Homo sapiens: one gene and its partner. The protein of the gene in region 1 interacts with the protein of each later gene in a pairwise test. Each region holds a gene or a part of one and is shown on either strand. Other genes may lie near its edges.

Evidence for each region.
Region 2: the proteins of MS4A1 (region 1) and TMEM72 interact in binary tests that used the Homo sapiens proteins (3 or more experiments, as listed by UniProt).

The regions. Positions count from the first base shown.
Region 1 is NC_000011.10:60,464,658-60,472,028, reverse strand, and holds the end of MS4A1 (B-lymphocyte antigen CD20), read right to left. Parts: intron 6,109-7,371; coding exon 5,872-6,108; intron 5,071-5,871; coding exon 4,969-5,070; intron 3,780-4,968; coding exon 3,561-3,779; 3' UTR 1,277-3,560; downstream 1-1,276. UniProt on the Homo sapiens protein: B-lymphocyte-specific membrane protein that plays a role in the regulation of cellular calcium influx necessary for the development, differentiation, and activation of B-lymphocytes.
Region 2 is NC_000010.11:44,913,574-44,922,538, reverse strand, and holds part of TMEM72 (transmembrane protein 72), read right to left. Parts: intron 1-8,965.

The DNA of each region.
Region 1 (7,371 bases):
ACTCATTGCCTTTCCAAGGTAACAAAATGTATACCTATGTTTTCTCCTAAGAGGTTTTATAATTTTAGCTCCTACATTTAGGCCTCCATTTTTATTTTTGTGTATGGCGTGAGGTAGGTATCCAATTTTATTCTTTTGTATATGGCTATCCAGTTGTCCCACCACAGTTTGTTGAAAAGATTGTTATTTTCACATTGAGTTTTCTTGGACCTTTATTGGTTATCTTTTAATACATATGCTTATATCATTCTCAATTAGGCAGTAAGATTTTTGAGATCAGGGAGCTTCTCCTATCTTTATCTGTACCCCACCATACTTAACAAAATGCTTTACCCATAACAGGTACCTGATGAACTAATTTCTCTTTCTCCAGCCAGGTAGTAAGTTCTAAGGGTAGACAACTTATTTATTCTTTCTCAGCATTTTGCACTGCTGAGTAGGCTGGGGTCAATAGAGGATAATTGTAACTTTGCTTTGATTTTGCCACCACATGATTCTATCATATTCATTTATGACTTGGTACTTTTTAGCTCAGAACACACAACCAAGTTTTCCATAAAAGGAAGCTCACTAAAGGATTGAAGACTTAACCTAGGAAAATTTCAGATTTGAACCCCTCCATCAGTGTTTTATGTTATACACCAAGAATTTAAAACAAATCAGATTTCTTAAATGAACTCAAGCTAAATGAATCTGAAGTAACTATTTCTGTGTATTGGATCTTTGACTATTCTCTTGTTGATGTGAAATTAAAGGTAAATTTTCTGGGTTTTAACAGGTGCTAGTAATTCCTACTGGTCAATGTTGACAAGACTTTAAATGTAAAGCTACATTTTGAATAATAAGAGGAAACATGTATCTTGCTCATGATTTCTGTGCTCCAAAAGTGATTTGTATAAAGAAAGAAAAGGAAATACCCTACATATCCAATAATAGAGGAATGGTAAATTTATATTGATTCATAAAATCCTAAGTTGAAATTAAGTGATGCTTATGAAATTATGTATCAATAAGGAAAAATCTATGATATACTGTTACATGTAAAAAGTAAATATTATGCAGTGATTGTAAGTGAGTAATCTATTACTATGAAGTAGGATAATCAACTATCCTGTTTGCCTGGGACTATCTTGGTTTTAACATTGAAAATCGTGTATCCCAGGAAATCCCTCAGACTCAGACAAACTGGGATGGTTTATCACCTTATTTTAAACAAAGATTATAAGAAAACCAGAAGAAAATGAAAATAAGTTACGTCAGCCTCCTAGTCAATGAGTGCACTTGGGTTTTTAAAGTTTATTTCCTTTGTGGATACAACATTATTTTTACAAAAATGCAAATTGGGAGGAAAAACTAAGGCTAGAGAATATATCTTCTACTTCTTGGCAAAGCATGTTTACTATTGGTCAATGTTATTATTTGACTCTATATTGCCAAAGGGATAATCGGGGAGAAGGTCATAGGAATTTTCATCCTTCTTTAATAGCAGACATTAAAGATGTCTCCTATTATAAGGAGTTATGTGAGGTCAGCTAAAACTAATTATTTGAGGTCATACAAATGACTCAAAATTCTTAGAGAAACCATGGGTTTGGAGAGGAATCCTCATATATATTTCAGAAGAGGAGAAAAAATAAGATAGAAATAAGATCTTGTATTTTTTTAAAGATTTCTGACTTTCATTTTTTTCTCAGGCCTGCTCCTACTATGTCCTTTTCCTTCTCTCATATATTTCAGTCGTCTGGAGTTCTCAGAATAAGGAATCCATTATCAATGACCTATCCCATGAACATTTTTTTTGAGAACCTGTGTAAGACTATATAGACATGAATATTTGATGACCTGACACCTCACCGTTCAAACCTAGATTTGGGTTGTATAAATATCAACTCAAGGCTGTAAGAGCCTCCCATGGTCTAATGTTTCAAGAGTAAAGAAGAATAGACAAACACCCATGTTGGAATCATCTGTTGCAGAAAAGAACACAAAGATAGTTTTATTAATTTAGAACAAATTTTGAGAACTTTACATAGACAGAAATCTTCTATCTCCTTTTTTTCTAATTTTGGGGAATGTCTTCCACTAGTGGTCGCTAAAAATGTAGAAATATCATAGGGAGTGCAAATTACATTGTCTCTTTACCTGCCACAATCTGGCAGCACTCATCATGTAGCAAATGCCCAAATAATAGACTACAGATTATAGTGACTTCACCCTAGGTTAACATTATTTCTAGGTAAGGTACTAGTATATCTGAATTGAAAAGTAGGGCAGCTGTTGACTCAGATTCGGCATTTTAATTACATTGTTTCCAAGTATGATATTCTGAGAGTGTCTATAGCACTTAGTGTCTGCTTCATATAAACTACCAGTTATTATATATTTATGATGCAAGTAGTTTTCCAAATGTGGTGAAAGTCTGAGTCTTTTTATCCCCATGGGTAAAATCTGAATCTGGCTCTCTGTGTCTCTCAGTGCTTGTTTATTGCTGGTCAGAGAGTAAATTCTTGATAAAAGCTGTTGACTTGGCTCTCACAGTTTATGCAGACATTGGAGAGACAATTTGGTTATTTCAAACATCACAGGATTTGAGTAAGAAGACCTGGTTATGAAACAAGGCTCTCATAATTACTAGTTATGACTGTTGACAAGTTACCTTTTCTTGTTTACAAGTTATTTGGCCTCTTTGAATTACTTGTAAAATAGAGATAGGGATTCTTTCTTGATCATGGAACATCAAATGAAGTTATTTGATGAAATACTTTGTCATCTGGAAATTATAAATATAACTAAATGTTAATTATTATTTGAAATTTGGGCACCTCATGGTGGCATTTTCTATGGTCATTTTTTTCTTTTCTCGCATAATGGCTAAAAGTAGGTAGACATGCAAACAATAGCCTAGAGTGGGAGTTAGGAAAAGTTAAGGCAGAGACATGTCCATGTATAAGCTATGCTGTTTTTACAAAAAACAGATGGGTGTTGGCTATTTAGAGCTTCCCTCATGGGGTGTGGTAACTCTAAGAATGTGCCACAATGTCAGCCCTGTAGAAAGATAAATGGAATGGGTTCTGTATTGTCCCTAGTTGTTATTTTTTTTTATCATCCTTAAAACAATGATGCAAAAGGGACTCCACCAAAAACGTAGATGTGGAATAAAAAAAAGATAGTTTAGGAATGTCATGAAGCAGTCATATATCTTTTCCATCAGGTGCAGTCTCCCTGGTTGTTGATGGAGAAAATGACAAAAAAAAATACTATACTAAAAAGCCTATCCAAGGAACAGGTTAGTAGGAAATCACATTCTGAAGCACTCATTCTGCCTTTCTTCAGTGTAAGAAAGTTGCTCAAAAGAAGAAGCGTGACAACACAAGCTGCTACAATGGCTACATTCTCTACATTCAATGTAAGAGAGAAGGAGCTATGGTCACTCCATGCAAAGGCCAGATAGAGATGTGGTGCGTATGTGCAGAGTACCTCAAGAAATGAAAGTCAGCATGTCTCTTGGAAGCTATGAACACTAATGTTTAAAAAAGGAAACAGAAAACAGAAGAAATCACTTAAGGAGAGCTGTCATTTTCTATTGGTGAGGATTCCTGATCTTGGGGAGGTTCTGGAAAGTTCGTCTCTGTTTCTTCTTCTTCCTCTTCTTGGATTGGAATAATTTCAATGTCTTCTTCATTCTTTGGTTGGGAAGATGTTTCAGTTAGCCCAACCACTTCTTCTTTTATTTCAATAGTCTGTTCTTTTTTTTCTTCTGCTGACAGGAGAACTATGTTCTAAAACAGAAAATTAAACAAACCATTCTTTACTTTTACCACTGACACCTTTGTCAACAATCTCCACAAACATTTATCAAATACCTCCTGGTTTTTATGCTACTTATGTCATTTATTATATGCCTTTAAATGCCAAAATTTTTTTGCAGGTGCTTATATCCTTATCAAGTCATTTATTAAAACTCAAGTCTGAATAAATCTTCAAGGGCAGCAGACATTGACCACAGTGCCTGGAATGACCACGTGGTATTGGGAAAAGAACATTGCAGTAATAGAGGAGTTTAGATTTTCGTTCTGATTTGCCTTTAGTGAATATAACTCTGGGAGAATAATTTTCTCTCTTTGATACTATTTTTCTTTAAATGCAAAATGAAGTAATTAGCGATGATTTCTAAATTCTAAATCTAACAGTCTGGTTCTGAAGCAGTTAGTAATATATCTATTATTGGTCTGTTTTTATTTCCCATTTGTGGAGCCCTTTAACCTGTTGTTTTGGAAGAGGAATTAGGTGAAAAGGAGGGAAGAGGGGAATACTGAAAAATGAAACCAAAGAACTAGTGACTTAGCCTTCAACCTTCAACCATCTTGCTTTTACACACTGTATATGGAATCATGAAATCAGGATGGAAGCCTGAAGTCAAGCAGCAGGGAAGGTTAATAAGAAGATGCACAGAGGTGGGGCATGGTGGCTCACGCCTGCAATCCCAGCACTTTCGGAGGCTGAGGTGGGAGGATCACCTGAGGTCGGGAGTTCAAGACTGGCCTGGCCAACATGGTGAACCCCCGTCTCTACAAAAATACAAAAATTGGCCAGGCATGATGGCGGGTGCCTGTAATCCCAGCTACTCGGGAGGGTGAGGCAGGAGAATCGCCTGAACCCGGAGGCAGAGGTTGCACTGGGCCAAGATCGCGCCATTGCACTCTAGCCTGGGCAACAAAGTGAGACTCTGTCTCAAAAAAAAAAAAAAAAAAGACGCACAGAATATAGAACTGTAGGCTCTAACTACAGACTTATTTCAAATTTCAAGACATCATATTATTTGCTTTCTAGAAATATGCCAAGACCAATTTTTTTTTTTAAATCAAGCTCCTAGTTTCAACAACTCATCAGATTACATTCTCCATAAATGATCCTTTGTGGATGTGGATTTTCTAGAGGGAGGTTTTGGCCAGAGGGGCTACTACTTACAGATTTGGGTCTGGAGCACGTTCTTTTCCATTCATTCTCAACGATGCCAGCTATTACAAGTTCCTGGAAGAAGGCAAAGATCAGCATCACTGACAAAATGCCCTGAAAAACAACAGAAGAATGAAGGTGAAAATGTAATAATGGCACAAAGAACATTGTTGGTGTTCAGTAAGTTATTGTTGACTATAATTGAACGATTAAGAGATCAATTCTTTAGACAAGTAATGAATAGCTGTGAGAACTGCTAGTACAGGAGACAGCATCTTTATAACCCTAACTCTTAACACAACTTTTGGCACACAACAGATGGTTAATGTGTATTGCTGATAGAAAGTAAGGTATGAATAATCAGTTGAAGAATCAATTCTGTATAGGAAAGAATAAGTAATGAGTCTCAAATTAAATTGTATTCAGCCTTAGTTGGTGTGGCATCATGCCTAGGAGACCTCTTCATCCTTGGGAGATGCATTTTTTTTTATCTCTTTCAAACTCTACATTTAAAAGTCCTTGGGCAAAAGATATTCATAACATCTTAGGAATTTCTTCTATGCTCATCTTAGTTAATATAATGGTAAATATTAATGCCATTAATGATGTTGAGAATAATTAATGTTAAAGCCAATGCTTATATAGCACTTCTGTGTACCAAACACTGTTCTAAATGCTTTGTATATATTAACTTATTTATTCCTCAGAACAACCCTATTAGATAAATAGTGTTACCATCCCCATTTTACAGTTGAAGAAATTGAGGCACAGTGTGGTTAAAATTCTTTCCCAAAGCCACACAGACAGTAACTAGCAAACTCAGGTGGTCTGGATCCAGAGTTCATGCTCATAATAAACAAGTCATCCTTCCTCCCTGGAGAGAAATCCAATCTCACACTTACCAAGAACACTTACCAAGAACAGAGATTGTATGCTGTAACAGTATTGGGTAGATGGGGAGTTTTTCTCAGAGGGATTAGCTGGTTCACAGTTGTATATGTTAATATATGGTGTGTGAGCTCTAATAAAATTCAGACTCTCCATTTTTAAAAAATGGGAAATTTTAATATTAAGTATGTCCATGATTGAAAGAATCATTCCAGAAATGGCAGCAAAGAGGCTCAATGAATTCATTATCATTTTTCCTTTGACCTGAAATGGAGACACAGATTTATTAATTGGGTTTGATTTCCCTTTGGAAAACATAATCTGGGAGGGAATTCCAAATGCAACTGCCCTGACTCACAAAGCAACTACAACTAAATATACTGAAGTTCTCTCAGTTGTTTTTAGCCTCTTTGTCACTATAAAATAAAATCATGTCTCTATCCTGTTCTTTTCTCAGTCTTCCCTATCTCATTCACCATCCATCTGTTTTATAAAGCAAAAATTCTAAGAGTAACCCTTGATTCTATATCTTGTATCCTTGCATTTCCTTCACTGCCACTGCCACCATCCTAGTAGGCACTCAATAAATGTTTGTTGAATAAGTGAAGATAAATATTATCCAGTTTATTATCTGCCTTCATAAATAGGTAGAGGGAAGAGAGTGAAGAAGTTTCTTGTATCACACTTTAGTGGGATGGTATTATGAAGTATAGGTTGGGAAGGTTCAGATAGAACCCTCTAGATCTGTACTATCAAATAAATGGAAATAAAAAAAGCAGAAGCAACAACAGTAACAACATCTATTCCTGCTGACATAGGTTGCAATCAGCCCCAGTCAGCTATCTTCCAAAATACAATTAGGGCTGATGTCTTTGGGTAGCATAGGTAAGAAAATATCAGTGTGAATGTTCTACCTTGCAGGGATGATAAAAGGTTGAAACAGGAAAATATAAATAACAAGTACCATAATGATATGGGATTATTGATTATTATTTTATGCTGCGCATATTTCATTCCTGGCTCTATGACCTACACATGGCAAGTCAGTAAATCTGGCTGTATCTAGAGAATAATTTGATGTTCATAAAAAGTTTTCCCCCCAAACTGAGTGTGTCAGGCCACTTTAAGACAGGAACCATCTCAATCCACCCATTCCCTCATTGATTATGAAAGTGACACAGTTTAGTAACAGTGTTGGGGGAGGAATTTTTTGGGAGCGAACTTGCTGCTAAACTCTTTTCATCCATACAGCATCAGCAGCTCTGCAGGCCAGTTTCCTCTGGATCTAGATGAGTCCCTAGGGGTTTTATGGGCAAGACCACAGTGTAGTACTTTATAGCCTGTGAAGCACCATCACACACTCTACTGCCTTTCATCTCCATTGGACGTCACATGGTAGCAAGGACTGTTACCCTTCCTTTCTAGGTGAAAACTCAGGAACATAGAGGTAAACTGACTTGTTCAATGTTACGGCCAAAAAATGGCTTAGCTAGAATTTGAATCAATCATGACATTGATCAGATAATT
Region 2 (8,965 bases), on another chromosome or scaffold:
GGAAGCTCCTAGCCTGGTGTGCTAACTGGACTGTACTGGGAACAAAATATTTTTGGAAGGTATCACAGTTCCACATGACATAGATATAGGACCCCAAAGTGTTTTCACACAGGGCCTGGAGTTTCCCAAAAGTTTTTTTTCCAGGGGACTGTTCTCCAGAATTGGCAGGAGGTGAACATGAAGTGTGGCCTGAAATTTAGTGGGGGCTTGAATGAAGAATGGGATTGTCACAGGTAAGAAGGAGCTCCTCTCCAGTCTGCTGAGCGTCTGTTCCCGGAGACTGCACAGGTGGGCCCCCGCCCTCTCAAAGGCCTCACTTCAACCTGTGGATGAGGACAGCCCACTCCTTGTTTTGTGGAATTGGACCTTAGGTTTCTGCCAGGTTTCAGATTTAGGCGGGGCTCTCTGTTAAACACAAAGAAGTTATGGCACCCGGATAACTAGGAGCAGAGTGGGCCCAGAAGGACACCAGGGCTCAAAATTAGGGAGGCACACCTCCTAAAATTACAGAGGTGCTCATTCATTAAGGAGGTGTTCTCCCTAAGACTAAGAAGATATTTGCCATTAAATTAAGGAGGTGTTCTACAATGAAGGAGGTGCTCCTCTTAAAATTAAGGGGGCCCTCATTGTAATTTAATGTGGCCTTCAGTCTAAGCCCAAGGTGGTACTCCCTCCCTCAGGCGCAGTGTAGGCCCTTCGTGGGCCCTGAGAGTGGTAGCTCTGGCCCTGGCATCTAGAGATTTGGGAGGCCCAGAGTCTGAGGGCTTCTAGCTCCTCTTGGAATTTAGCCTGCGCTCTGGCCTTCCATACTTCTCACAGGGCAGTGGGGCTGGTGTCTTGGAAGCTCTGCCTTCACAGGGTGCTAGTCCAGTGTGGAAGTGGTTGGCCTGAATCAGCAACTCACTGGAACAGATACCCCCAGGGCATTACCCTGAGCTGGGACCAGGGACTGAAGAGCTGATTTTTGGATTAGCTGATCAATGATCAGGAGCCAATCAATGGAGACAAACAATGGGACAAAGGCCCTGCTACCCGCAGAATCAGAGCCTCATGACACCAAATTCTCTACAAGAAATAATCGCCCTGAGATGTGCTTCAGTCCGGCTGTGCTGTCTTTCCTGCCCAGGTGGAGGGGCAAGGGAACACTGAACAGCACTGCTTGACACGGCCATTAGTGGCCTTTGACTCCTTCCATCCCTCCCTATTATCCCACCTCAGGCTCCCCAGCTACTCTCACCCCAGCCCAACAGAGGTACCTTATGCCCACTCCAGCACAGCTCACCCCACGCCTCTGTCTCACTCCCTGCATGATCCCAGGAGGTGCCTTGCATCGCACCTTGATGGAGCCATTCATGGACAAGCCTGGCCTCTCTCATCTTGTTAGCTCCTTCCCTCCAGTCTCTGTCCCTCCTGTGTGGGCCAGATCCAACCTTGGTACAAGAACTTTCTTCTCTCAGGGTCCAGGGCTTGCTTCTGTGTTGCTTTCCTGAGCTGTTTGTTGTAGTTCAGGCTTAGCAGAGATCAGAGATCCTGGGCCAAGAGCCTGTGGTACAGCCCTGGGCAGGGCAGCCACTGTGTGAGTATCCTTCTCATCCTGGAGCTCTGGTCTCAGCATGGGTTGACGAAAGCTAGGAGGGGGCTGCACCAGAGCAGAAAGAATATGGGGCCTGCATCAGAAAAGCTGAGTCCTGCATCCTCAGGAAAGTGATTAACTCTTTGGTCTGCATCTTATTCTGGAAAATGGGGAAAATAAAAACATGCAAAATGGTGCCGACCACTGCTCAGTCTAAGTAAATGAGAGTGCTGCACAAATGCAGACGATGGCTAGGAAAGCTATTATAAGAGGCAGGCGGTTCCCATCAGTATTCTCCAGTGGAAGGAGAGGGTTTATTCTCATCCTTTGCTCCCATTAACACACTTGTGGGTTTTTTTGTGGCCAAAAAGCTGTTCCCTGTGCACCAGTGTTGCTTGTTGTTCACTAATTTACTTTGAGGTCCCTTCTCAAAGCCCAGTTGGGATATAAGTGACCCAAACTCCCATCTATCTCCACATCTCTTGTATTAGCCCTCCATAACCCTGCTAGGGTCCCCACGGGGCTCAGGCCAGCATGTTCCTGAGGCTGGGGCCATCTGCGGGGCTGCCTACTGAGGGGATATTCCCCTGGCCTCAGGCTGCTGCTGCTTTTGCCATAGGGCTGACCTCATGATCCACTGTTGCTTATCCGTTCTGACTCCATGGGTTGAATTGTGACATATGTCTTGCATTTATTGTGATGCCCTTGGTGGTAACATGGGACGCTTCACAGTCATCAGAGGCCACACTAACCTTGGCACTGGATGCCCTGGGCATTGGATGAGAATTTTGTACTCACTGTTGCTGAGGGCAGCCTCCGAACCCACCGCGTATATTTATTGCTTCTTTTCATTCTCATCTCCTGCTGGACTCAGGGTGTCCAAAGACACCTCAGGGAAAGACGCTCCAGGCTGATGACAATGGGCGTGGATGGTCCAGGAGAGGTGGTCACCGCCAGGGTAGAGGTGAAAAGCTAGATTTGTACCATTTCCAAGACTATGGAGTTGCTGGAAACAGTTGCTGTGAATTCACTGGGACAGTAAGGTAGTAGCCACAGGCTTCTTAGCTCAGAAGTTGTGGCAAACAGTAAGCATGGTGGGGAGGTTTACCTACGTGTGGAGATCAGTTCAGCTGATATACATGAGCCAGGGTTCAGAGACAGTGTGGGAAAAGGGAAGGATTTCATGGCAGATATTTCTGGACATTCAGTTGGAAGAGACTTCAGATTGAGCTCCTATTGAAACTGTATAGCAATTTGGGGGAGAACTGATGTCTTAACGATATTGAGCCTTCTGACCCATCAACAAGATGCATCTCCATTCATTTAGATTTTCTTTGTTATCTCTCAGCAATGTTTTCTAGTTTCTAGTGTAGTTTGTTTTACATCTTTTGTCAGATTTATCCCTAAATATTTCGGATTTTCAATGCTATTATAATTTGTATTTTTAAAGATTTCATTTTCTAATTGTTTGTTGCTAATGTATGGAAATACAGTTGATTATTATATATTAAGCTTGTCTTCTGCAATGTTGCCATTCCCTCCATTAGCTCAAGTAGCTTTTGGGGTAGATTCTATTAGATTTTCTACAGATGATAACGTCATCTGTGAATAAAATTTTTCTTTTTCCTGGACAATCTGTATGCATTTTGTTTCTGTTTCTTGCACTGGCTAGAACCTCCAGTACAATGCTGACTGGACGTGGTAGAGTGGACACCCTTGCCTTGTTCCTAATCTTAGGAGGAAGCACCTGGTCTTTTACATTTAAGTAGATGTATGTTTTCTGTAATGACCTCTTAAGGTTGAGGGAGTTTCCTTCTGTTACTAGTTTGCTGATGATAGTTTTATTTTAATCATAAAAGAATGTTGGATTTCGTTTAAAACTTTGTGTCTATTTAGATGATAATATGGTTTTTCTTTTTTAGTTTTTAAATATGATGTCTTAGTCCATTTCGGCTGCTATAACCAAATCCCATATACTGGGTACCTTATAGACAACAGAAATTTATTTCCTACAGTGCTGGAGGCTGGGAAATGCAAGATCAAGATGCTGGCAGATTTGGTATCTGAGGGACCCCTTCCTTATAGAAAACTGTCTTCTCACTGTTACCGCACATTGTATGATAGAAGGGCCTAGGGAGCTCTCTCAGGTCTCTTTTATAAGGGCATTATTTCCATTCAGAGAAGGCCCTACCTCCTAATACAATCATGTTGGGTGTTAGGATTTCCACATATGAATTTGGCTGGGGGGACACAAACATTTAGTCCATAACACATGGTAAGTTACATTAATTGATTTTTCAAATATTAAAACAACCTTGCATTTCTGAGATGAACTCCACTTGATTATGATATATCATTCTTTCAATATATTTGTATTTGTTAAAACTTTGCTTAGAATTTTTGCATCTATATTGAGAAGAATATTAGTCTATAGTTTTCTTGTAATATCTTTGGTTTTGGTATCCACATAAATACTAATTTTATAGAATGAGTTGAGAAGTATTGCCTCCTTTCAAATTTCTGGAAGAGTTTGTGTGGAATAGATATTTCTTCCTTAAGTGTTGGTAGAATTCACCTGTGAGGCCATCTGTGCTGATACCCCACTCTTTGGTGATGAGGAAGGACTCTGCAGACCCATATGGTTCATTGGCACTACTGAGGATAGTGTCTCCCACGTAGAATAGCATCTCCCTTGTAAGTACCCTGGTATGGTTTGGCTGTGTTCCCACCCAGATCTCATTTTGAATTCCCACCTGTTGTGGGAGGGACCAGCAGGAGGTAATTGAATCAGGGGGGCAAGTTTTTCACGTGTTGTTCTCGTGATAGTCAATAAATCTCAAGAGATCTGATGGTTTTAAAAAGAGGAATTCCCCCACACAAGCTGTCTCTCCTTGCCTGCTGCCATCCATGTAGGATGTGACTTGCTCCTCCTGGCCTTCTACCATGATTGTGAGGCTTCCTCAGCCACATGGAACTCTAAGTCCAATTAAACCTCTTTCTTTTGTAAATTGCCCAGTCTTGGGCATGTCTTTATCAGCAGTGTGAAAACAAACTTATACAGGCCCACAGGAGAAATTTCTTTTAGGTCTCAATGTCAGGGAGAACCGAGGTATTCACTTCCTATTCCTTCTCAGTGTTCAGGGAGAATGCATCTGCTCACTCATCCACATGGCAGGTTTCCAGAAAGCATTGTCCATGCTCCCATTGTTCTCTGTCCATTCCACACACATCAGGCTTCTTCATCTGACCCTTACCTGGTCTCCTGGGGGTTTCCTGAGCCCCTTCTTCACAGTGTCAGCCACTTATGTCAGACAACATTTCTTTTTGTTCACAGCCCTCTTCAGAAGGCTGAATAGAACCCAGGACAATCTTGAAAGAGCTGTCATCCCATGAAAAATAAAACAGGGCTGCCATCTTTCCTCTGGTTGGCTTACTATATGTGGTGTAGAAATAGCCAAGTTCCTGTGGGCTGATCTTCACAACCCAAGCTCAGAATGTGATGGGAAATGTTTCCCAGTATAATGCTCTTTACAGTGTAGCCCCTTCCTCCTTCCAGCCTCATGAGTCACATACTGCTTTGCTCCTTTCCTCGGATCTTCCTTCTTCTTCCTTCCAACAAAAGGAGCTGATAACTCATGCTACACAGTTCCATGCCCTGCACGTTCCTCTAAAATTAGCCCATGCTGAGTGAGAATCTATGTGCCAGGCAGCTTGCTACTTTAGCCATTGTTTCATTGAGCCCTCACAACTCCAGAGGGTAGATACAGTGATTGTCCCAGGACACAGACCCACCTCCCAAACACTACGCTGCAGTGCTTGGTGCTCGGATGTGCACTTACTAGTTTGCTTCTCTGTCCAGCCCATACACTCCCACAGGGCAAGGTCTTGCCATTCTAATCCATGTGTCTATGCTGCATGACTGGGGACTCAGGACTGGGGATGCAGGACTGGACTGCATCCTGCATCTTGGGGTCATCAAAATACTATGGGACATGCTTTTTAATCCTGATTCAGGTGGAGGAAATAGCGATTAGGAGTGGAGTCTCAGGAGCAGATCACTGGGGACTCAGCAACAGTTTGCCAAGTAAATGAAACCTAATTGAAGTTTCAGATTTCTTGTTATAAATCTAGAAGCAAGGCACAGGCACAAAGTTGTGAAAAAAGAAATGTTTGAACCAAATCCTATTGCCTGTTGGTGGTAGGTGGGGGGAACAGAGGGAGGCAGATTCCATTTACTTGTGGAGCCAATTGTAACAGAAAAGGAAAACAGTCAACATTCACTTGGAAGGTCTGAAAATACAATGTGGGCTCACTTGGGTGATAAATCTCTTGCGAGGCGTTGGAGTGCATGACACTTTCTTAAACAGCAGGAGGTGGTCATGGGGATATACATGTAAGAGGGGTAAAATTAGCATGGAGGGCCCAAGATGGCTGCTTCAGAAGCATTTGTTTTCCTGAAGGCTTTGAACAGGGCTAAGGTCAAACTATGCATTTGCTCTATCCTTTAAAATATAATGAGAACAGCTGGGTTTTAAATACTTCTTTTCTCCTAATGTACATTAATAAGCCAATGCTCTAACTGTGTGGGAAGCATGGGAGCAGTTGAAAATGTGGCTGTGTCCATTATATAGAGAAACAGGTTAATGGGTCAAAACCTGGAACAAAATAAAACCCCTCAGTGATTCCAGGTTGATTCCAAGCACTCAATTTGTGAGAAACAGCACGTCAGCCTGACAAGCAGAGTTCACTCAGAATGGCTTTGCCTCCATCCCCTCATGCCCTGCTGGCTCTGCCATGCCCTTTGCTTTGGAGCTGCCATAACACAGCCCTGTGTTTGGGCAGAGTGGAGTTCTAACACCGGACCTCTGTCTCCTGGCCATGTGACCTCTGCCAGGTTACCTCAATGTTCTGAGCTTCAGTTTCCTCATTTGTAAAATAGGACTGAGCCCAGCACTCTAGCGTCTCAGGCATTTGTGGGGCTGGAGCGAGACAATGACCATAATGCATGCAGTCAGCCCTGCACCTCTGGACCCATCAAGGCAAGCCCTACTGTGATAGTTCCCCCTGGAAATGTGTGCAGATTTGTCTGTCCCCAGATGGGTTCCAGGAGCAGATTTGGCTAGAGAAGGTCACGGTGGTGCTGGTTAAAGCATGTGTGGCAATCTTGAGATAGAGAATGGATAGCTGCAATGAATATCGGTGTCTTGAGATTTAGAAAGTGTTTGGTGATCCTTGACTATGTGCTTCACTGTACGTGTGTCCTCACCATGACCCCACCTGACTGATCAGAACTGACCAAGGGCAGGAGCATGAGGGTAGAGGATGGGGAAGTTCTGATCAAGCCTCTCCTGCTCTCCTCTGTGTGTTTTGCATCCTGCATCTTGGGGTCATCAAAATACTATGGGACATGCTTTTTAATCCTGATTCAGGTGGAGGAAATAACGATTAGGAGTGGAGTCTCAGGAGCAGACCATCATCAGGTGGAACTTTGTCTTCTTGCTTCCTGGTGTGAGACCCTGAGCAAGATGCTTCGCTCCATCAGGCCTCGGTTTCCCTTCCTGTACAGTGGGTATGAGGATGAACATGATGATGCTCCCAATGACAGGAGGATGAAATGCGATACTGCATTTAAAATACACAGTGCAAAGCTTGGGCTTTGAGTATTATTTGAGTAAATACTCAAATAATCATGTTCATTCTCAGCAACCTCTGCTCTGGGCAGAGGCTGGAAGAGTGAAATTCAGCCCTGGAGATGGGGCAGTGGGGCCTCAAGCTGGAGCCTCTTTGCTCTGAGGGAAATTGGGAGGCCTTGCTCAAGTGCCCAGAGACATTTTCTGAGCAAGCCTCTTATGGGGAAGCCCATGCACATCTGTGTGTGAGGACACAGCCTGAGGGGAGGGCTTTCACTACAAGGCGGGGCTCAGGGACATGTCTCCCCTTCCCTCCATGCCCAGCCTGGACGGCCTGAGAGGTGCCTCCTCTGTCCCACAAAGGGGGCTCTTCCCATGCTCTTCCTGGCCACCTCAGCAGGGGCTGGGGAGTGGCAAAGGAGTTATTCAAGATTCCCCTGAGGTTAAAGGGTAAGAGGATGGCTGAAGTTCAAAGGGAAGCCAACCCTGCTTTCCTAGCCTGCAACTGGGACCAATGCTGTGGGACAGGTCCTTTCTCATCTCACAGGGGAGGAGTGCCCTGGACCGCTGTGCTCCAGGCTCAGTTAAATCCATTTCCCAGGACCCCTTTCCTGCCATTTGGTCTGTGCTGAGAACCTGTCACAGGGCTGAGCCTCCTCTGGGGCCTGAGTCTCACACTCAGGACATCTTTACCCTGTCTCTAGTGGACACGGGGAGAACCTGCTTTGAGGGATGGACAGGCAGGAGCTCCGGCATCCGCACAGGGGAATGTGGAGTGCTCACAGCCTGTGTGCCATTTCCCAGCTGTGTCTGCTTCCATGGGCGGCAATGGATGCCGCGTCTCAGCAACTGAGGCACTTAGACATCACACGGGCGCATGCATGCACATGGACCCATGGGCGCCTGCCCCCCAACCCCACATCCTGAGCCAGGGAGGTGAAGCAAATGAACCCGGTGTAAACAATGCGGGAGTGGTCTGTTATGTCCTGGAAACCACATGACTGCTCCAGAGGGAGGGAATTTTCTAATTTTAGAAACACTTCCACCCAGGTGCAACTACCTGAGGCCTGTTTATCCCAATTTGGTGGTGGCAATGATCCGTCTGTGCTCTACAACCCCTCATGATATGGGGCTGGACACTGAGGTGGGGCAAGAATGGTCTGCGGGACTTCGAGGAATCCTAAGGAGGCTTCATCCAAAGGCTGTGGCTTCATCCACAGTCATAGGGCCTTGACATGCTGGCAGAGGCACCCACCAGGTGCCGTCAGTGCTTTTGACAGCCCTGATCCTGTCTGCAGGGGGTCCAGGGAAGAGGCTGCTAATGAGAGGCTGTAGCCTCTTAGCAGCTGCCTGGTCCCTGCAGGTGACACTCTGAGTGCCCTTGGGTCACATGTCTTCCTAGCTTTTAAGAAATCCACACTCCCCACCTCCCTAGGGTTTCTGCAAAGTGAGGCCCTCTATTTCCGGTCTTATTTCCTCTCTAGCAGCAGTGCCCTTGTAAATGAAGCCTGGATTTCTCAACAGAAGATTTCAACAAAAGAGAGGCTTAGGAGAATAAGGAATTTGCAAATCCTATGTACTGGAAATAGGCCAGGAGTTCAGTGATGCTGGAAGAAACTCGAGATTTGCCCAAGAACACCAAACCCCTCTCTCTAGCCTCCCACTCCCTCCCAGCACTCTAGAAAGCCCGAGCAAGATCATTTGAAAGCCTGGCCATTAGAAGGGAGCTCATGGCTATTTTTAGTCTGAATCTCCTATCAAA